Regions from separate parts of the Homo sapiens genome. Here region 2 is linked to region 1. The links come from fine-mapping of genetic effects on gene expression. A gene starts in region 1. The other region holds a variant in brackets. All regions are shown on one strand. Distances are between the middles of the regions.

What was found. PIP is the estimated chance that this variant, and not a neighbour inherited with it, causes the effect.
Region 2: its variant is the best candidate, but not a certain one, in a credible set for the expression of RAET1E in nasal epithelium (TOPMed, PIP 0.60).

The regions. Positions count from the first base shown.
Region 1 is chr6:149,893,240-149,904,871 of GRCh38, reverse strand. RAET1E (retinoic acid early transcript 1E) reads left to right here and starts at 6,759. Exons shown (of 6, transcript NM_001394057.1): 1 at 6,759-6,851; 2 at 8,840-9,026. It overlaps RAET1E-LRP11 (RAET1E-LRP11 readthrough), which reads left to right and starts at 8,742. Exons shown (of 15, transcript NR_182438.1): 1 at 8,742-9,026. The region is part of intron 1 of RAET1E-AS1 (RAET1E antisense RNA 1); the gene reads right to left. RefSeq lists a silencer at 6,205-6,499.
Region 2 is chr6:149,917,275-149,928,906 of GRCh38, reverse strand. RAET1G (retinoic acid early transcript 1G) reads left to right here and starts at 5,786. Exons shown (of 5, transcript NM_001001788.4): 1 at 5,786-5,981; 2 at 9,091-9,354; 3 at 9,583-9,864; 4 at 10,523-10,733. The coding sequence starts at 5,897. It overlaps RAET1E-AS1 (RAET1E antisense RNA 1), which reads right to left. Exons shown (of 2, transcript NR_045126.1): 2 at 9,399-9,720. RefSeq lists silencers at 2,510-2,589, 11,319-11,604 and enhancers at 2,520-3,054, 3,055-3,590. The variant G/A (reference allele first, on the strand shown) is at 4,136.

The DNA of each region.
Region 1 (11,632 bases):
TGGTGTCCACATCAGCCTGGACCTCAGAGAGGGAGTGTACAGGGAAGAGCACCGAGCATGCCGTCAGTCCTCCACATCCTTTCACAGCTGGCCCACTCTCTGAGCATTTTCCTGGATCTTGGCTTCAAATTTACCACCAAGCTCCTGGCAGTCAGCCCTGGCCACAGCACTATCCTGGACCATCGTGATGGCCTGGTGTTGGCCTCCACATCAAGAAACAGATTTGTTATGTCCGGGGAAAAGCCATGCAAGCTTTCCTTTAAGCTCTTTCAGATGGGGCCGAAATGCACTTGCAGGAAGGTGTCCATGTGGGGCAGCAGCACCTGCTCCAAGGATCTACCAGACAACTCCAGCTCTGTTTGATTTGCCACACTGCAGCTGTGAGGTTACTAGCCAGGGCTTTCCACGGGCCTGGTAGGCTGTCACCTGGGGGAATGTCATCCTGGAGATCTCCCAGGAGGGATTCCTGCTGCTCCTGTTGCACTTCAGCCTCATTGATCTCCACAGCCAGGTGGCGTGACTTTAACTTCCTGGCCGTCTGGAGCACCCTGTGGACATGGCTGCTGTGAGTGGATGTAGAATTTCTCTGTTTTGCAAGCAGCTGTGAAGGTAACCAGCTAGGACTTCTGGAAAAGCATTGTTTTCACAGCCCCTTAATCTCAGGCTGGCTCCCTCTTTGTGCCTTCCCTTGGGGACCCCTGCTGGGTGCCCTCATCTCTCAGTGAGCTACTGAGAGGCAGGTGCCTGCCCAGAGTGTATGTGAAGCTCCTGCAGTCTGATTTGGGCCTGCACTTGGCCTGCCATGGCCCCAGCCTGCTGCCCTGCCACAGCCAGGAGCCATTTCAACCGTTTTCAAATGTACAGGCATCTATTTAAAATGGCAGTATCTGTGCCTGCTCAGGCAATCCTGAACCTTCTTAACCTGAACTTTTTCCTCCTAAAGCAATGACCACTTTAAAACAGACAGTGTTAGCTTTTGATTGCTATTGTAAGAAATTACAAATTTAGTGGCTTAAAATAACACAAATTTGTTCTCTTACCATTCTAGAGATCTGAAGTTGGAATGGATCTCAATGGGCTAACATCACTGTGTTGTCAGGGCTGTTATTTCAGGAGACTCTCGGGGAGAACCTGTCTCCTTCTCCCCTTTTCCAGCTTCTCCAACTGCCCACATCCATGGCTCAGGGCCCATTTCCCCATCTTCAAAGGCAGTTCCATCAGATTAAGTCCTCACTGTGCCCCTCATCTGGTTCTCCCTCTTCCGTCTGCCTCTTCCTCTATAAAGATCCTGTGATTACATTGGAACCCCAGGGAAATCCAGAAAATCACCCCGTTTCCGGGGCAGATGATGAGCAACCTCAACTCCATCTGTAGCCTTCACTCCCTTTTCCATATAACCCAGTGGGGGGTTCCAGGGATTCACACCGGCATCCTCTGGGATTGGCGGGAGTGGGTGGGGGTGGCAGGTGATTATTCTTTGCAAAACACATGCCATATAATTTATGTATATATCATTTTTATACCACAAAGATGGGGGAAGAAGCAGAGCAATATTGGAGCAGAGATTTTGCATCCTGTTAAAATTAAGTTGGTTTTAATATGATCTAGGTTGTGGTAAATTAAGATATTAATTGGAATCCCCTGAAATGACTAACAAAATAACTTTTTTAAATAAAAAATGAAAAAGAGACAATAAAGGAAGTAAAATGATGCAGTAGAAAATATCTGTTTAACACAAAACAAAGCAATAGTGGTGGAAAAGATGAAGAAAATGACATAGTGCATATGGAAAACTAAGAAAAAGGTGGCAGACGTAAATTCTGTTCCACCTTAGCAGTAATTCCCTTACATGTCAAAGTGATAAACATTCAAAAGAAAAAGCAAAGATTCTCAGAATGCATTTAAAAAATGATCTAAAGATACAATGTAGATCCCAAGATACAAGTAGTTTAAAAGTAGACATATGGAAAAGATAAAACACATCCATAGTAAACAAAGACAACTGAAATTGCTATTAATAATATCAGGCAGAATCATCTTTAAGACAAACAATTTTATAAACATTCTAAGAACCAATCAACGAAAGGGAAACTCACAAGGAAAATTAGAAAATACTTTGAGATGAATGGAAACAAATACACAGCATACTATGATTTATAAGAAGCAGATAAAGCAGCACTTAAAGGAAAACTTACTGCTGTAAATGCCAGTATACTGAGAAAGAACAGGACAAAGAAAGGATTATGTCAAATTAATAACTTGATATTTCACTTTAAGAAACTCAAAGAGCAAAGCGACCTAAGCCCCAAATAACAAATGGAAGGAAATAAAAATTGGAGTGTAAATAAATGAAATAAAGAATAGAAAAACATTGGCAAACTCAATAAAACCAAAAGTTGGTTCTTTGAAAAGATCAACCAAATTGTCAAACCTTAACCTAGAATGACTAGGTAAATGGTGGAGGGATAAAACTCAAATGACTAATACCAGGAATGAAAGAAGAAACATCCCTACCAACTTTACAGAAACAAAAAGGATTATAAGGGAATACTATGTACAACCGTATGTCAATGAATTCAAGAACCTGGATGAAATGAACATCTTTCTTTTCCATTTATTTTCCAGTTATTATTGAGCCACTTTTGATTGTATCCTCCCTTCTCTACCAGAAAGGACAAAGGTTGATCACCAAAGACAATTTCAGACTCTTGTCAGGCCTAGGGACAGCAGCAGAGGCACCACAAGCTTCTCTGATGCCATAGATTGGCCTTCCCATGATCTGCCACTTCTCTAGACGTTTATTGTTTTCTGTTGAAGATGCTGGAGCTCTAAGCCAGCACTTTAAGGATTACTTGTTTTCTCCAGGTGTTTCCTGTGTATATACAAGAGACGATAGATAGATAGATAGATAGATAGATAGATAGATAGATAGATAGATAGATAGATAGATAGATAATAAACTCCTGTTTGTTTGTTTTTTTCATGAAAATCATTTTTCCTCCCCGCCGTACAAAGGCTTGTCAAAGGCACACTAATGAGCAGCTGATTGGGCTCCTCCAACCGATGAACTCTGTGTTTGGCTCTGTTTGGAAACACACTGAGGAGTCCAGCCTCTTTGGCTGCCACAGGATACATTTCCAGAAACACCTGTTAGGCGTCTGTGGATGAGGAAGGCATCAGGCCTTCCTACCTGAAGCCTTATTGACTCCTGCAAGTGCTAAAGAAACCCCTGGGGACAGGCTAGGCTGCCTGTTCCTACTGGATTTTAGGCCTGGAGACTTCTGGTGGGGGCAGCCCAGGCAGGGAAATCAGGAGCTGTGGACAGGGAGTGGAGGAGATCAGGAGGGGATGGCAAGACCCCCAGCCTGACCCCAGTCCCCAGTGCCCTCTAGCAGCAGAAATAGGAAAAGGAGGTTGAGGGCAGGCAATACTGCAACCTCCTGTGCTGAGCATACAGATAGGTCCAGCCTGGTGGCCCCGCACCTGCAGATTCAAGGCAGCCCTGCCCTGCACTAACCCTGCACCTCCCAGGCCCACTGCTCTCCCACTGTGACCCCATCCGGAGACTGGTCTATCTAAAGACCAGGACATTGACCAGCAGCCCAGTGCTCTGCTCCACGGCCTCTGTCAGGCAGGACGGAGCTGGAGCCCAGGCAGAGATAAGGACAGGGGAAGATGGCCCTTGTCAGCCAGGGATGTTCTGTCCTGCTGGGCATGCGGCCTCTCTCACAGAGAACCTACGTGATCTTGCTTCCCCCACTTTCTTATCTCATAGGCCCTACATATTTGCCAGAAACACCTGCATTCCTAACTCTTTGCCAGATGTCAGGGGCCAGCCGCCAGGGGAACTGCGTGGCAGAGCCCCTGTGCCAATGGCCAGAGAAATTCAGGAGTTCCCAGAAAACAGAGGGTGCTGGAAATCCAGGTGGGAGAGCTGCTCCTTGTGCCAAGATTTTCCTCAGAGGCTCCTTCTCCGGTGCCCTGAGCAGGGCCAAGCCTGGCGAATATTAGAATTTCTGCTGGGCTGAGAAAAAACAGCAAAAGGAGAAGCAGTCTGGGGGGTGACTTGGAGGTGGAAACTGGGTGCGGTCAGAAAAGTGAGTGGAGCCTGGAGGCCAATGAGCACCCCACCCTGGCAAGTCACAGCAGGACAGGGCAGGGGACCAGGCATAGAATTGGGCCAGTTGTAACCTGCACAACCTGGAAAAGGATTTGTATTTGTATTTCATGTACCCATTGGGTAAGGTGGCATTTATCTCCAGCTTCCTTGAGGTGAGCTCAGTTTAGGAAGTTTCTTTTCGACTGAACTGTGTCAGGAATCTCGCCAATGCCTGATGCTGCCCACCACATCTCTTTTGCTGCTGCTGTGGCTGGAACCTGCCTGGGAGGCACCGGCTGTGAAGGCTGGAGACCCAGGGAGGCTGCCCTGACACCTCTCCTTGTTCCCTGAGCCAGGGGGCCCATCTGAGCCCCTTCACCCCTGGGGAGCTGTTTTCTGTGCCTTGTATGAGGTTTTTGTCTTCACAGAAATGGCATTCTAGTAAGAGATAGAAATTTTAAATGGATAGATATGTAAATTATATGGTATGTGTGTTGGGCAGAAGAATTCCCTCTCCAATCCTCAGGATGGCAGATCCAGTCCCTGGAACCTCTGTGTTGGGGTACATGGAAAGGGCGGTGAAAGCTGTGGATGGAGCTGAGGTGGCTAATCAGCTGCCCTGGGAAAACCAGCCATGGAGGGGTAGTGTTCTCATGTAAACCAGGACTCAGCCTGGTGGAGCTGCCTTTGAAGATGAGGAAATGGGGTCCTGAGCCATGGACGTGGGCAGTTGAGCAGCTGGAAAAGGCAAGGAGGAGACAGGTTCTCCCCGAGAGCCTCCCAAAGGAACACAGCCCTGACAGCACAGTGATGATAGCTCCGTGAGACTATTCAGACTTCTGAGCTCCAGAATGGTAAAAGAATGAATGTATGTTGTTTTAAGGCACTAAATTTGCAGTAATTTGTTGCAACCACAATTAAAAGTTAATAAGGTTTGTTTGATTGTTTGTTTATAGGGATAGAGTCTCATTCTGTTGCCCAGGCTGCAAAGCAGTGGCGTGATCTCGGCTCACTGCAACCTCCGCCTCCTGGCTTCAAGTGATTCTCCTGACTCAATAAGCTGAGTAGATGGGATTACAGGCACTGGCCACCACACCCGGCTAATTCTCTTATTTTTAGTAGAGACAGGGTTTCAACATGTTGGCCAGGCTGGTCTCAAACTCAACCTCAGGTGATCCAGCCTCCCTGACCTCCCAAAATGCTGGGATTACAGGTGTAAGCCACTGTGCGCGGCTTACTAAGGTATGTTTTAAAGTGGTCATTGCTTTAGGGGAACAAGTTCAGGTGAAGAAGGTCCAGGATGGCCTGGGCAGGCAGAGGTCTCCCATTATGAAATAGAGGCCTTTACATTTAACAGTGGTTAAGATGAAAAATCACGTTACATGAATCATACCACAATTTTAAAAAAAGAAAGAAAGAAAGAAATACAAGGGTTCCAAATGCGAGGGGCAGGGAGAACCAGGCGTGGAAGGGTGTGCCACCTGGGAGCAGGAGTGGGAGTGAGCCGGGCAGATGCCTGAAGGGCAGTCCATGCTGAAGGGAGGGCAATGCAAAGTCCCAAGGCACGGGGACATCTGCAGGGCTCTGAAGACCAGCAAGGAGGCCGAGGGTGGAGGTCGGAACTGAGCGAGTGAGGGGGCATAATGGACAGCTGGCCAGACTGTGCAGGGCTCTCTAGGCATCTGTAGTGACTTTGGTTTTACTGAGAGAAAAAGGGCACTTTTGGAGAATTGGAGCAGAGGGGGGCGTGAGTGATGAGGTTCTGAAGATCACTCTGGCTGCGCTGTAGCCATTTGGGAGGTGGGGACAGGCACGGAGAACCAAGTAGGGCAGCACTGCAATCACCCTGGCCAGGAGGACGGTGGCCTAGAACCAGGGTCGAGTACTAGATGACAGTGTGGTCAAATCATAGATATTTTATTTCTAGTCCAAAGAAGAGATAAGAAAGAGGTCGAGCAAATAGGTGATTTTTTTTTTAAATTATTCACAGCCTTATAACATAACCTCTAAATCTTCAGTAAAGTTGGCTACATTCACAAGTAGCTGGTGTCACTTTGGTGGGGGCTTTGTAAGGAAGTGGGCAGGGTGTCTTTTAAGGAAGACTCAGGAGAAGTGCTGGTCTTCCAGTTGCAGAGGGGAATGGAGTTGCAAGAAGAAAACAGCGAGGTTCAGTGACACACAGTGCGAACACGAGCTCAGGGGGCAGGAGCTCCAGGTCTCAAGAGGGCAGGACGATAATGCAGTGTTTGCACAGAAACCAAGCAATAGAGGGAGCCAGCACCCACCAGAAATGAGGTAGGGCCGCTGTCACAGCTATGCCAGGACCTGCAGAAGCCTAAACCCTGAAAAAAGGTGGGGGCCCCCACCTACATATCAAGGAAAACATATGTATGCCATCACATGCTGGTCTCCAACAACTGCTAAAATTACATTAAATCCTTTCTAGAATTTCGTGGCTGGGACTTGAGTCTGGTCTTGGTCCTTCTACTGATGGTGAATCCAGTACTGAATTGGATCCAATTCTGGACGAGTTACCCTGTCCTAGAATCACTCACACGTGACAGTTGACAGGTGGCCCCACCCGGTTTGCATGGTGGACGGGTGTTCTGCTAGGCCGGCCTCTCCACACCCAGAGAGACTGAACTGGTTTCTGCTCCTCAGAGAGTTTGCACAGAGACTCTGAGGAAGCAGTCACCTCAGGCCTCTCCATCCTAGAGACGGCAGAAGGACAAACATCTCCTGCTGGCACAAGGTAGGGGGTGGGGGATGGCTGGTGTTCCAAACACCCGTGCAGAGGGAACGTGTGCATGTTTGGGAGTGAAGGAGGAAAGCAGGGGCTCGAGTGGTGAGAGAACCAGGGGCAGATAATGAAGTAAAAGTGGGGTTGGGGGAGATGCTGGGGGTGTGGCGGCGGGGACGCTGGATAAGGCAGGGAGGACGGGGTGGCTCTGCGGGTCCTCTGCCTCCACACCAAGCACTCAGGGATCCGTGCCTCCTTCCAGTCTGGAGTCCCAATCGCCCCTCTCTCCAATTTGGGGGACAGGGATTTCTCCTTGTTCTCCTGCCCTAACTCCTTCTTTCCGACTTCTCTTGTCCCATTCTCCCTCAGATCCTCCCTTCCGCTTATGCCAAGGCTTCCACAGCCTCGCTCTGCCGGGCCTTGGCATTCCTAGCCTGAGTGTTGAAACCATTGGCCGGGACCTCAAGGCAGCTGGGGCAGGGAGAGGACGGTTAGAAGCCCAGGGCACACTGCCACAAAAAGGCTGTGACTCATTTTCAGGGATTGAAAACTGCAGTCCAATTCATTTTAAAATTTTCGTCTCTCTTTGGACTTCAGGCTGAAAGTTCTTTATAGCAACGGGCTTCCAGGGACTATGTGAAATTATTGGTTTCACTTTCCTTATCACCCGCTTCTTACTTCAATTAAAATTCCATTTCAGCCGGGTGTGGTGGCTCACTCCTGTAATCCCAACACTTTGGGAGGCTGAGGGGGGAGGATTGTTTGAGCCCAGGAGTTCGAGATCAGCCTGGGCAACGTGATGAGACCCCATCTCCACACCAAAAATTTAAAAATTAGCTGGGTGTGGTGGCTCATGCCTGTAGTGCCAGCTATTCTGGAGGCTGAAGTGGAAGGACTGATTGAGCCTGGGAGTTCAAGGCTGCAGTGAGCCGTGCTCATGCCACTGCACTCCACCTGGATGACAGAGCAAGACCTGGTCTCAAAAAACAAAACAAACAAAAATCTACTTCATATGTAACCATTACTTCAGTTTTGAAACCATTGCCTGAAGCTGACATTTTGCAGTTGGAAAATGGCTATTCCTTCCCATCTTCAGGTTGGCTCAGGCCAAGCTGAGATTCAGGACCACAGAGGGCAACAAAGGTGGAAGGGCCCCTTTCCCCTTTCTGTATATTTTTCCCAGCCTGTCTGCAGCTCTTTCTTTTTCTTCAGTGTTAGGTTGGCATCCCAGATGTCAGGACCCAAGTATAGGCCTGGTGTGCTCCTTCCTGTGAGTCATCAGACTTGTAGAAAATATTGGCCCTGCTAAGGAGCTACTCAGTGGTCATATCACACATATGCACGCACACACACACAAGCACCCATGCACACACACACACACACACACAAACACACACATACACTCTGTTCTTGGCCCACCCCCGCTGGTGTCCCCACAGCAGCAGTATTGGCAGGGCGGTAGCAGTGAGTTCCTCTCTGTGTACTCTCAGGGCCTGGATGTGTACAGAACAGGCTCCACTCAGGACAGATTTGAGACCCCTTCTCCAGACCAAGAGGTGGAAGTGCACCCTCAAAATTGAGGTTCTTTAACCTTAGCAGACAGAGAACCACATAGGGGACATGTAAAAAATGTGCATTCCTCGGCTCCTTCAAACGCTTGACCCACTGTCCTCTGAGCAGACAACCCCTTATCCCCCAGCCCCAGAGATAGAGCCCTGCCGATAGTCCATGGTTACTTTCTTTGAAGTCTGTTCCATCTAGTTAAGAAAGGACAGTGGTAAAGACCCACTTACCTTACCAGGCATCATAAGGGCCCTAGCATCTGAGTCACAGGATGTCACCCTCTGGGTCTGACATGCACTTGAATTAACTGGCATACTGCCCGGCACACAGAGGGAACCTAGATGTGGAACGGATATGGGTGGTGTTACAGGCCGCATGTTTGCCTGCCTTCCAAATTCATATGCAGAAATCCTAATTCTCAAGGTGATGCTATTTAGGAAGTCATAACTCATGTGAGTGGAGCCATGTGGGATTAAGAAGTGATAGGAGAGCTTGCTGTCTGTCTCTGCTCTCCACTGTGTGAGGATACAACAGGAAGACAGCCATCTGGTGAGGAAGAGAGGGCCCTCGCCAGATACCGGACCTGCTGACACCTTGATCTTGGACTTCCCATCTTCCAGGAAGGTAAGAAATAAATGCTTGGTGTTTCAGCCACCTTGTCTATTCTGTTGTAGCAGCCTGAACTGGCTAAGGTAGCAGGGTCTGATGATCAAATGGGACAGCTGTAAAAGTGAGGTGGGAAGGGGGTCTACAGATACTAAGTTTTATGAGGAAAACTTGTGCTTTATTTGAAAATGACACAAAATTTTGTTCTAAGAAAAATTTTCAGAATTCAAAACTTAGAGCCCTAAGACTTTTCCCAATGATAGACTTGGCTTTCCTTGAGGTCTTGGCCCCAGTAGGACTGCTGGAGTCTATTACAAAACTCATCTGGAAGGACCTCTGCCGTTGCTGAGGCTTGAGGAAATGGTTTTAAGGTCACAGTGTAAACAAAACTGCTGGGAAGTTGGAACTGGGCGGAGCCCACTGCAGCTCAGCAAGGCTGCTATGGCCAGACTGCCAGATTTCTCCTCTCTGGTCAGGGCATGTTGGTAAACAAGGCAGCAGCCCCAATCAGGGGCTTATAGCAGACTTAAATGTCCCCGCCTGATGGCTCTGAAGAGGGCAGCAGACCTCCCAGCACAGCATTCGAGCTCTGCTAAGGGTCAGACTGCCTCCTCAAGTGGGTGCCTGACACCCACGTATACTGACTGGGAGACACCTCCCAGTAGGGGCCGACAGACACCTCATACAGGAGAGCTCTGGCTGGCATCTGGCAGGTGCCCCACTGGGTCAAAGCTTCCAGAGGAAGGAACAGGCAGCAATCTTAGCTGCTCTGCAGCCTCCGCTGGTGATACCCAGGTAAACAGGGTTGGGAGTGGACCACCGGCAAACTCCAGCAGACTGGCAGCAGAGGGGCCTGATGGTTAGAAGGAAAAGAAACAAACAGAAAGGATTAGCACGTCCCCTCAAAGACCCCATCTGAAGGTCACCAACATTAAAGACCAAAGGTGGATAAATCCACAAAGATAGGAAAAAACCAGTGCGCAAAGCCTGAAAATTCCAAAAACAAGAACGCCTCTCCTCCTCCAAATGATCACAACTCCTCGCCAGCAATGGAACAAAACTGGACAGAAAATGAGTTTCACGAACTAACAGAAGTAGCCTTCAGAAGGTGAATAATAACAAACAACTCCAAGCTAAAGGAGCATGTTCTAACAAATGCTAGGAAGATAAGAACCTTGAAAAAAGGTTAGTCGAATTGCTAATTAGAATAACCAATGTAGAGAGGAACATAAATGACCTGATGGAGCTAAAAAACAGCATGAGAACTTTGTGAAGAATACTCAAGTATCAATAGCCAAATCAATCAAGCGGAAGAAAGGATATCAGTGATTGAAGATCAACTTAATGAAATAAAGAGAGAAGACAAGATTAGAGAAAAAAGAATAAAAAGGAATGAACAAAGCCTCCAAGAAATGTGGTACTATGTGAAAAGACCAAATCTACATTTGATTGGTGTACCTGAAAGTGACAGTGAGAATAGAACCAAGTTGGAAAACACTCTTCAGGTTATTATCCAGGAAAACTTCCCCAACCTAGCAAGGCAGGCCAACATTCAAATTCAGGAAATACAGAGAACATCACAAAGATACTCCTCAAGAAGAGGAGTTCTGAAACTATTCCAAACAATAGAAAAAGAGGGAATCCTCCCTAACTCATTTTATGAGGCCAGCATCATCCTGATACCAAAACCTGGCAGAGACACAACAAAAAAATAAAATTTCAGGCCAATATCCCTAATGAACATTGATGCAAAAATCCTGGCAAACCGAACCCAGCATTACATCAAAAAGCTTATCCACCACGATCAAGTTGGCTTCATACCTGGGATGCAAGGCTGGTTCAACATACACAAGTCAATAAACGTAATCCATCACATAAACAGAACCGATGACAAAAACCACATGATTATCTCAATAGATGCAGAAAAGAACTTTGATAAAATTCAACACCACTTCATGCTAAAAACTCTCAATAAACTAGGTATTGATGGAACATATCCGAAAATAATGAGAGCTATTTATGACAAACCCACAGCCAATATCATACTGAATGGGCAAAAACTGGAAGCGTTCCCTTTGAAAATCAGCACAAGACAAGGATGCCCTCTCTCACCACTCCTATTCAACATAGTATTGGAACTTCTGGCCAGGGCAATCAGGCAAGAGAAAGCAATAAAGTACATTCAAACAAGAGAAGAGGAAGTCAAATTGTCTCTGTTTGCAGATGACATGATTGTATATTTAGAAAACTCCATCATCTCAGCCCAAAATCTCCTTAAGCTGACAAGCAACTTCAGCAAAGTCTCAGGATACAAAATCAATGTGCAAAAATCACAAGCATTCCTATGCAACAATAACAGACAAACAGACAGCCAAATCATGAGTGAAGTCCCATTCACAATTGCTACAAAGAGAATAAAATACCTAGGAATACAACTTACAAGGGATGTAAAGGACCTCTTCAAGGAGATCTACAAACCACTGCTCAAGGAAATAAGAGAGGACATAAACAAATGGAAAAACATTCCATGCTCATGGATAGGAAGCACTAATATCGTGAAAATGGCCATACTGCCCAAAGTAATTTATAGATTCAATGCTATCCCCATTAAGCTACCACTGACT
Region 2 (11,632 bases), 24 kb before region 1:
CAACTAAATAAAAGAGGACACAAACAAATGGAAGAACATTCCATACTCATAGATAGGAAATTGTGAAAATGGCCATACTCCCCAAGGTAATTTATAGATTCAATGCTATCCCCATCAAGCTACCACTGACTTTCTTCACAGAATTGGAAAAACTACTTTAAACTTCATATGGAACCAAAAGAAAGCCTGCAGAGCCAAGACAATCCTAAGCCAAAAGAACAAAGCTGGAGGCATCACTCTACCTGACTTCAAACTATACTACAAGGCTACAGTAACCAAACAGCATGGTACTGGTACCAAAACAGATATATAGACCAATGGAACAGAACAGGGGCCTCAGAAATAACACTACACAACTACAACCATCTGGTCTTTGATCTGACAAAAACAAGCAATGGGGAAAGGATTCCCTATTTAATAAATGGTGCTGAGAAAACTGGCTGGTCATAGGTAGAAAGCTGAAACTGGATCCCTTCCTTATACCTTATACAAAAATTAACTCAAGATGGATTAAAGACTTAAATGTTAGACCTAACACCATAAAAACCCTAGAAGAAAACCTAGGCAATACCATTCAGGACATAGGCATGGGCAAAGACTTCATGACTAAAACACTAAAAGCAATGGCAGTAAAAGGCAAAGTACACAAATGGGATCTGATTAAACTGAAGAGCTTCTGCACAGCAAAAGAAACTATCATCAGAGTGAACAGGCAACCTACAGAATAGGAGAAAATCTTTGCAATCTACCCATCTGACAAAGGGCTAACATCCAGAATCTACAGAGAACTTAAACAAATTTACAAGAAAAAAAAAACAACCCCATCAAAAAGTGGGCAAAGGATATGAACAGACACTTCTCAAAAGAAGACATTTATGCCGCCAACAGACATACGAAAAAATGGTCATCATCACTGGCCATCAGAGAAATGCATATGAAAACCGCAATGAGATACCATCTCACACCAGTTAGAATGGTAATCATTAAAAAGTCAGGAAACAACAGATGCTGGAGAGGATGTGGAGAAAGAGGAACGCTTTCACACTGTTGGTGGGAGTGTAAATTAGTTAAACCATTGTGGAAGACAGTGTGGTGATTCCTCAAGGATCTAGAATTAGAAATACCATTTGACCCAGCAATCCCATTACTGGGTATATACCCAAAGGATTATAAATCATGCTACTGTAAAGACACATGCACATATATGTTTATTGTGGCACTATTCACAATAGCAAAGAGTTGTCCATCAATGATAGACTGGATTAAGAAAATGTGGCACATATACAACACAGACTACTATGCAGCCATAAAAAAGGATGAGTTCATGTCCTTTGCAGGGACATGGATTAAGCTGGAAACGATCATTCTAAGCAAACTATCACAAGGACAGAAAACCAAACACCACATGTTCTCACTCATAGGTGGGAGTTGAACAATGAGAACACATGGACACAGGGCGGGGAACATCACACACTGGGCCCTATTGGGAGGTGAGGGGCTGGGGGAGGGATAGCATTAGGAGAAATACCTAATGTAAATGACGAGTTGATGGGTGCAGCAACCGAACATGGCACAAGTATACCTACGTAACAAACCTGCACGTTGTGCACATGTACCCTAGAACTTAAAGTATAATTTTTAAAAATTATTTAAAAATTAAAAAATAAATAAATAAATAAATTTTAAAAAATAAAATAAAAATCATATATCAGGTAAGGGACTGGTATTCTGAATATATAATATTGCAACAAAATATAATTGCAATTATATATTATATATAATATATAATGTTGCAACTCAACATTATAAAGTGAAATAACCCAATTTAAATATATGCAAGGAATTTGAATAGACATTTCTCCAAAGTAAGACAGGTATACTACACGGTGGTCTCAAAAGAATAGAAAATTTTGGGCAGCAGTTTCAGGTGACTAGCAAAAGGAATCTGTTGAAATATGTGCAGAGGCTCTGGGCTGATAAGATGCTGAAAAACAGCATGTGGACCAAGCTGGCTAAGAATGACTGGACCCAACAAGGCCCTGCATTTGACCTAGGTTTCACCTAGGACCTCATTACATGCTGATTAACATACTAAACACACACCAGCCAGCTCCTGAGCAGTTCTGAGAACACTTATATTTAGTGTAAAAATGCGGGGCACCACAGTTCTGAGAAATCTCTACCTTCTTCCAGGAATTTTCATGAATATTCCACTCCTTGGTTAAAGAAACCCAGAAAGGTGGCAGCCCCAAACTTGCACCTGCTTCTCTCTCGAGTTCCCCTGCACTCCCTTTACTTGACTGTGTACTTTGCCTTTTACAATAAATCTCCGTCCTTTCTCTATTTCCTACTGGTCCTTGAATTAATTTCCCCGGCAATATCAAGAATCTGGACACTGGCTGGAGTCGAGGTCCCACCGGCGTTTGGGGACCTCCCCTTGCCCGCTGGCATCAGAAGAAGAATGCAAATCGCAGTGAGCCCAGGAAAAGGTGTTCAGTGTTCACAGCCCTCAGGGAAATGCCAATCGCACCCACAAGGGGACGCCTCACCCCGCTGAAATGGCTGATCCCAAACACAGTGAGGGTGGAGGGGGTGGGGCCTGTGTTCCTTACTGGGCAGAGAGCAGGAGACGGAGAGTCGGTGGAGTGTGGGGGCTGTGCGCGTGTCCCCCTCTCCCCATTTTCGTGGTGGGGGTTTCTCATTGTTCTCCGGCCCTGTTTCCTTCCTCTCCCTTTCTGCCGCCCTCCCTCCAATCCTTCTTTTCCACCCATCCCAAGGTTTTCTCCGCCTCACGACGTCCATGCTAGGGCCTCCCAGACCAGCGGAGAAACCAGCAGCCCTGGACCGCAAGCGGCGGGGTCAGGGAGGCGACAACGGGAAGCCCCTGCCGGACCCTGGACACTCAGGACCTAGTGCTGCCCGGGCGCCCTCCCGCAGCAGCCCCAGGGCGAGGAGGATGGGGGGGGTCCTCGCAGGGGCCACACTGTCGGAGCCCCACGGATCCGGGCGGGACGGTGAGGCCTCCACACTGAGCCGGTGGCAAAGTCCCCGCGAGGATGAAGGAGGAACCCCGTGCTCCTCACCCCACCAGGCCCCGCATTTCCTGGCTCCTCCTGTCTCAGGAACCGCCTGTCCCTTGCCGCGACCGGCGAGTCCTTCCGGGTCTTCCTGAAACAGTTTCGTCCCGAGGCTCTGGATCTGGAAGCCCAGGGGCATCGTCCGGGAGCGGGGCACCCACTGTGGGTCTCCGCCAGCCAGCACTCAGGCCCGGAGCTCGGGGACAGCGGGCGCCCTGGGAGGAGCACACAGAACCATATCAAGGCTTAGGTCCTGTCGAGCTCTAGAGGGTTTAGCAAATTCAGGTCTGTTTCAGACTGTGTCTCTGGTCATAAGGAACCCCCACGGTGCGTGGTGTGCAGACAGCAGGAGCTCAGGCATGTGCGGTCCTCACATTTGAGTGGGGCAGCAGATTGGTGGCTCCAGATGCTGTGTGTCAAGGAGAAGGAGATTCCATCCACTGGAGAAGAGCAGAGGAACTGGGTGTAACCCCAGGAAGGAGAGGCTGCCAAGGACTGTGTCGACCCAGAGGACAATGCTGGAGTTAATTCCCAGGGAAGGTGCCTGGGTCACAGCCTTTAAGGCAGACGCTGACTGAAAAGACTGTATACAAGTAGGAGGTCAGGTCTCTGGGAACCCTCAGAATACGGCTCAGTCCTGGGGCAATGCCCCTGCCATCCGGCCTCCTGCACACTCCAGATTCTGGCCCTGCCTGGAGCAGAGCTGACTCGGAGACAGGGGTACTGAGCTGCTCCTGGAGTTCCAAGGTCACTGCTGAGCTGGACCAGGAGTGGATGGGGCGGGGCAGGGACAGTCTCATTCAGAGCTTTGGGTACAGCCCTAGGGTGAGAAGAGGCTGAGAGAGAAGGGGAAAAGAGGATATTGCCTGAGTGGCTGGGGGCAGAATGGGACCCAGGGGCTCTGTCCAGTCCTCACCCTAAGCTAAGCCCTTCACAGCTGCCAGGAACCACTGGGACCCTCACCTGTCTCTGGCTTCTGCCACCACTTCCAGATGCCCTCATGATAATTAAGACAAGGATACAATTGGGGTTTCCTTTTGAGGATGGCCGCAGGGACC[G/A]TCCAGGGACTGAGCAGAGGTGTGGGTGCAGCCATGGATCCAGGCATCAATGGTTGGCCACAGATGGGTGTACTGCAAAGTGAGCTCCACGCACGCACAGACCCCTCCCTTGCCTCCTGCTCCCATGGGAAACACAATTGATCACATTCCAATTGAGCAACAGTAGGCCACTAGGGCTTTTTTCCCTCAAAAGCTGTACACAGATCTAGTATAGTCTCAAAGACCTCATGCTTCTAGTAGAGAAGCAAAGAAATGTGTGAGCATTTGTCACACAGGGAGATCCGGATACGCTCCATCACTGTGGATCCAGGCCTCAGGGAGCAGGAGGGTGTTCCTTCATGTGGGAAGATGAGGGACACACATGGGAGGGGGTATTTGTGCGCGGCTTGGAAGGATGGCTGGTCCTTGCCCAGGGGGAACAGGCCCAAAGCAAGCGCTGGCAGTTAGTAGCTATGGGGAGCTTTCATTTGAACCTGCTCTGCTGAGTCCCCTGGGCCATCCCCACACCTGGTGGGGCACTGTTCTAAGGGGAGCTCAGGGTCAATCTCTCTGATGTGCTTTCTAAATCAGCAAGGTGCCTCACAGGTTGTGATTTTAGAGACAAGGTTTTCAATGCTTTGCATTAAAATGCAAAGATTTTAATGAGCAGAGTCTTTTTGCCAATCCGAATTGGGCAGATCCCAGCAAGACACATATTTTTAAGATAATTTTTAAAGCTGTTTAATTTTGGTAAAAAAGTAGAACATAAAATTTACTATCTTAACCAATTGTTTAGTGTACAATATCTTCTTTGAAGCTTCTGAAGACCTGGTGCTTCTGTAATAAAATCTAGCCCCGGGCCAGGCGTGGTGGCTCACCCTTGTGATCTCAGCACTTTGAGAGGCCGTGTCGGGCCGATCACTTGAGCCCAGGAGTCCAAAGCCAGCCTGGGCAACATGGTGAAACCCCGTCCCCACTGAAATACAAAACTTAACCGGGCTTGGTGGCGCGCACCTGTGGTCCCAGCTACTTGGGAGGCTGAAGCAGGAGAATCGTTTGAATTCGCGAGGCAGAGGTTGCAGCGAACCCAGATCGCGCCGCTGCACTCCAGCCTGGGCGGCAGAGCGAGACTCTGTCACGAAGAAAAAAAAGAAAAGAAAGAAAAACCAACCAACCAAACAAACAAACCTAGCCCAGGCTATAACCACGTCCACTCGGGATTTGGGATGAGGCCGCGGGGATGGGACTGGGCTTGGATCTGCGCACAGGACGGTGGGTTGGGAGCACTCTGCAACGCAGGGAGAGGGAAGGCGGGTGTCGCAGGTACAGGCGAGGACAGGGAGACCCTGTCGCGGCTGAACACTTCTGTGCATTTTCTTCACCTTTCTGTGCATCGGTATCCACATTGGATTAATACAAAATGAAAAAATTGCGGTGATGATTACATGAGGGGGTCATGGAAAGAAGCCTTTGGCAGGACTGGTCCCGGGCAGGCAGCCAGCAAAGTCTGACTGGCTGAAGCAGGGGGAAGTGCGCGAGCGCTGCAGTAGAAAGTGGGGTAGACTTGGATGAGCAACTTGGCTGAGAGACACCTGATTGGCTAGCGGCTCAGCAAAGGGGGTGTGTTTCCTCCGAGGGGCGGGGCAGAAGGAGTGCTAGAGTTTAGGGCTTACTGGAGTTTAGGGCTGCATTCAGACGGGCTGCATTCAGACAGCCTGCGAGCCGCCAGGTGATCCACGGGCTGGGCTTCGCTTCTGCTGTCCCCTGCGATCCAACTCCCCAATGGCAGCGGCCGCCAGCCCCGCGTTCCTTCTACGCCTCCCGCTTCTGCTCCTGCTGTCCAGCTGGTGCAGGACCGGGCTGGCCGGTGAGTTCGGGGATGGAGCCTAAGCGGGGCGGAGGCCAACCGTGGGGGGCTGTGGACTGTGGGCTTCAGAGGAGGGGAGGCTTCTGGAAGGACCCGTGCGATCACCCCGGACTGCGCCCCCGCTCAGTTTCCCTCCGCGTCTCCTTCCCGCCGGGTCCGTTCCCAGAGGCTACTTATCCTCCGAGGGGAGGAGCTGGTCAGAGAGGAGGCTGGAAAGGAACCCCCGGAGAGTGGAGGGGCCAGAGGGCTGCAGAGGGCGACGTGGAGCGGGGATCCCTAGTGCAGCCCGGCAGTCCCACCCGCCCTCGGGAAGGAGAAACCAGAGCCCCCAGAATCCGAGCTGGGGTCAGGACAGGGGTGAAGTGGGGTTGCACAGGGACACAATCACAGACACTCCCACCAGCCACCAGCCTGCTCTGTTCTCACCCGCTCTCAACCACACAAACCTTCCAGCACCCCCAGGGCTGCGTGCCCTTGAATTTTTCCCTGCACTTTCCTGTAGACACTCACCTGCACCCAGCGGCTCAGCAGACACTTCCCACCCTCCCCTCACCATCCACTGCCACCACCCAGGTAACATCCTCTTACTCCCCACCTCAGCCCAGCTGGTCACCCCAGAGGTCTCCCCATCCATGAAGGGGCCCTCGCGACCTCTTACACCACGTGACACCTTCTGCCTCTTGCCTGAGGACACACCCCAGCAAACACACCCCAAGCTCCCCACAGAACCTGTGCAGGGGGGATGGGAAGCACCATTTCCTCCAGGATGACCCTGGGAACTCTGGTGAGTAGAGGCACCCACTTCTGCCCTTGGGGCCCAGACCTGCCTGTTCTTCCTACTGGGGCGCCAGCATCATAGAGAATAGTCAGTGTGTAGACAGGGGTCAGCAAACCCTTTCTAGAAAGGGAGGAAGGATGCCCTGTGATCTTTGCAGGCCTTGGGTTCTCCGTCTCAGTGTCCAGTCCTGTCCCTTTGCAGAGCAACAGCAGGCAATGGCAACCTTCAAATAGGGGGGACCAGATTTGGACCCTGTCCTAGGTTGCTGACCCTAGATGAGGGGATTACAGTGTACCAGCAAATAGTACCCCATCCCCTATGGTGTCATCTCCAAGTGGTGTCTCAGGTGTCAGTTGGAGAGTAGAAGGTGGTCCTACCTTGCCTGTGGCTTCTGGGTGGTGTGGATGTGATGGGAGTGGGGGTCCCATGGTTCAGGGTCTACTCTCCCCTCCTTTGCTGCTGAGTGGCATCTATGGTCCACGGGGGCCATCAGTGACCTTCCCTGAAACCTGAGGTGTAAGCTGAGGGTAAGGGGGTGCAGCCACGTGGTGTCCTGGGAATCGGGGCCAACTGCTTGTGCAGCTTCCCGGTTCCCTGTGGCCCTACTTCTGCCCATCCCAGGAGAACCACCTGTGTCTTCTCACTGCCAGACCTCTCTTCCTAATGACCTAGAGGGTGAGGAGCCCACCCGTAATGGGCAGCTCTGAGGCTGGATGGTCACGGCCCTTCCATGGCTAAAGGCCCCATCTCTGCCAAGGCCCAGTACTCTACAGGAGACACTTTTTAATGTTGAGATTTCCTTGCTGTGAGTGGCGTTGCCTTGCCTCTGAACATTCACATGGAATCTATGTTGTGATTCTCCAATTAGACATTGGAACCACATGCACCTCTAGGATCTTAGGGGGTCTTGGGTCATTGGGCACTTAAGGCAGGTCCAGCCTCGCTCATTCATGGATTGCCTGTGGCTGCCTTTGCGCTTCAACAGCAGAGCTGAGTAGTTACAATGGAGAATATATTCCCTGCACACCTTTACATGTTTACAAAATTGCCCTTCATAGCAAACTCTAGTGGCCATAAATACGTTTGGAGAAGCCCACAAAGAATCATTGCACTTGTTGCGGGGTTAAAGGGTCCTTCCTCACTGGAAACTGGTGTCTTCTTCTAGTCATGGGTTCACGGTCTGAGAAGTGGCTTTATTCTGCAAATTAGGCAAAGCAGCCTTGTTCTTGAAGGACTGGCTACTTTCAGCCTCCTGGTCATCCATCATTTGTTTTATCTCTGTTTCTTGTAATTATTTAAATCCAGCACTATTCAGGTTGGGTTTCCATCTCTTCTGGATCTTGGACCCCTTTGTTCTATGAGCCATGGGCATAGCTTTGTATGACTGAGGTCTCCAGCTGGCATTGTGACTTCTCTAATCATTTCCATCATTGCACCCTCCTTGTTCCTGACAGTTGACAACCTCCACCTGGAATCTGTTATTTCGGGATTTTTCATCCCATTACTACTGGGAGCCCATTTCAGGAAGAGCATCTCCTACCCCCAACCCTGGCCTTCAGCAATAGGCATCCCTGAGCTTCATCCCATTCTGGTGCCTTCTCATGGGGCCTTCTTTATATGCCAGGTAAACAGGAGTCCTCCAGGCTTCCCATGAGCACAGCAGATGGACATTGTTCTGGATTTTCACACTCAGACCCCTCCAGCCTGGGCACTTCTCTGAGCCTGTGATCCCTCCGTCTACTGCCTGCCTTAGATTTTCAGATTTTTCTATTTCTTGCTGTGTGGACCATCCCTTTGTCCAAGGTTTCAGGAAGGCATCCTCATAGTAGATGAGCACCACCACCAGGGGCTTTGCCAACGTGTTAAATCCTGTGACCATGATAATTAACTCTTCTTTATCCAACTGGGTTCCATCCTCACTCCGTCCCACCATGCACCAGTATCCTCAGGTGCAGCTCCCACACCCTGTCCCACCTCCCACAGTCCACGTGGGCTACTGCTGAAGATCCTCTGTCATCCAGGCCCTTCCTCCTCTAGCACTCCTGGCACCTCTCTAGCAAGGTCCTGTGTTGACCGATGTGGACAGAGGGGCAGTGGGACATGTCTGGGGACATGTGGTTTCTCAGCAGGCAGGGACCTCCTCCTCCTCTTTGCCCTCATGGAAGTGGGGAGCACTCGCCTTAATCTTGTGGACACCACAGTTCTGGAGGAGGCACTCCTTGCTGGGCCAGCCCAGCCCTCCAGAGGCTTCCTCTTATTGTCACAGTGTGGAGGAGGGGTATCTAGGGGTCTTTTCCTCCCCACCCACCCCTCACCTGCCTTTCTCCACAGACCCTCACTCTCTTTGCTATGACATCACCGTCATCCCTAAGTTCAGACCTGGACCACGGTGGTGTGCGGTTCAAGGCCAGGTGGATGAAAAGACTTTTCTTCACTATGACTGTGGCAGCAAGACAGTCACACCCGTCAGTCCCCTGGGGAAGAAACTAAATGTCACAACGGCCTGGAAAGCACAGAACCCAGTACTGAGAGAGGTGGTGGACATACTTACAGAGCAACTGCTTGACATTCAGCTGGAGAATTACATACCCAAGGGTAAGTTTCAGATGGCCCAGGACAGCAGGGAGCAGATACAGTGGTAGGTTAGAGGCATTTATAGTTTTCATGTAAAAATACAAATAGGAAGGTCATCTCACCCCGCAAGACGTCTAGAGGCAAGGCCAGGATGTGGCAGAGCAAGTAAGACCAGGAAATTGCAAGTGGAAGAGGATGGGGGCTCAATATCTGTCAAGGCCAGAGCTGATCTCTCTTTGATGGGGGCAGAACCCCTCACCCTGCAGGCCAGGATGTCTTGTGAGCAGAAAGCCGAAGGACACGGCAGTGGATCTTGGCAGCTCAGTTTCGATGGACAGATCTTCCTCCTCTTTGACTCAGAAAACAGAATGTGGACAACGGTTCATCCTGGAGCCAGAAAGATGAAAGAAAAGTGGGAGAATGACAAGGATATGACCATGTCCTTCCATTACATCTCAATGGGAGACTGCACAGGATGGCTTGAGGACTTCTTGATGGGCATGGACAGCACCCTGGAGCCAAGTGCAGGAGGTAACAGGAGAAAAAGAAATGGGGATCTCCAATGAGATCAGAAATGGGGATCTCAAGAAACTAATTCTTGAGTTCAGCTTCAATCATCCCAGTGTACACGTTTATGTTAAAATGACCTCCTCGTGGGGTGCTCCTCCTGGGGGTGCTGGCGTGCCTGTGCTCTCCCACCCTCCTCTTCCTTCTCCCTCCTGACTCCTCTTCCTCACTGCACTTGCTTCTGTTCCCCACACTGTGGATTTCTCACCAGCCTCGAAACTGCAGGTGTCACTATTTTCAGGCCTTTCTCCTTAGTGTTCCCTCTTGAGAATCACTTTTCCTTTCCTCCTCTGGTCTGTTTCTGGAAATCCATCAAAACCTCCTCCAAGGCCAGCCTCGTGACCCTCCCCTCCCGCACCCTGGAGCATCACCTCCTCTTCCGCCACAGCAGGAGGGTGGGCTTTGCTGTCACCTTGCTTCCCTCAGCAGCTCTGTGAGCTCCCTGAGGCCAAGGGACACCCCCTCTCCCTTCCTACCCCAGGAACTCTCCCAGGGGCTGCCCCATAGCAGAGGGGACAAAACCTCTGCCTTCCAGGATGACCTGGGTCAGCAGGAGCTGAGGAGGCATCTCCTCAGATTTGGGGCCTGGACAAGGGTTGTCACTCTTGTGCTTCCATTTCAGCACCACCCACCATGTCCTCAGGCACAGCCCAACCCAGGGCCACGGCCACCACCCTCATCCTTTGCTGCCTCCTCATCATGTGTCTCCTCATATGCTCCAGGCACAGTCTGACCCAAAGCCATGGCCACCACCCTCAGTCCCTGCAGCCTCCTCCTCATCCTCCCCTGCTTCATCCTACCTGGCTGCTGAGGAGAGTCCTTTGGAGTGACAGGTATGGGGGCAGAATTGGGAGTGGAGCAAAGGGCAGGTGGGTGAGGAGGGAGGACAGGGATGGAGAATTCCCAGAGTCCCACTCCCTATGGCTGGGACCTTCTCATCCTAACATGAGACAGGTGAATGAGACCTTGTGTTGCTTGTTGGAAATGACCTGGGCAGCTCTGCCCTGAGTTCTGATGGATTCTCACCATCAAAGGCCAGAGGGAAAGGCGCAGTGGTGCCATACCAAGGCTCAGGGTCTGTTGAGCTTGAGAGGGTTTAGCAAGTTCAGGCCTGATTCAGAGCAGGTTTCTGTTCAGGAAGGGTGTGTGGCCTGCAGGCAGCAGGAATTCAGACATGGGCAGTCCTCTTAATTGGGTTAGGTGCATCAGGGTAGCTTTACATGAGGTATGACAAGGGAAGGGGGATTCCATCTCTGAGGCTAAGAGAGAGATATGTGTGGGCGGCAAGCCACCCAGGTGCCAAGGCAAGAGACTGAAGGCACAAGCTGTTCCAGTATAATAAAGAAAATACTTAAAATAAGAATAGTTGTATTAGACGTAGAATACAGACATGATTATCTATGAATATTATCAATCATTAGTCTGTAGTGTTACTCTTTTTTCCAATGTTATAATAATCTCTGTTCCACAATTATAACCCAGGAAAAACCAGGCCATGCAGAGACAGGAGCTGAAGGGACACGGTGAGAAGTGACCAGAAGACAAGAGTGTGAGCCCTCTGTCATGCCCAGACAGGGCCAGTAGTGGGCTCCTCAGTCTAGCAGTAGCGCCAGTGCCTGGGAAGGCACTTGTTACTTAGCAGACCGGGAAAAGGAGTTTCCCTTTCCCCGGGGGAGTTAGAGAAGACTCTGCTCCACCACCTCTTGTGGAAGGCCTGACATCAGTCAAGCCT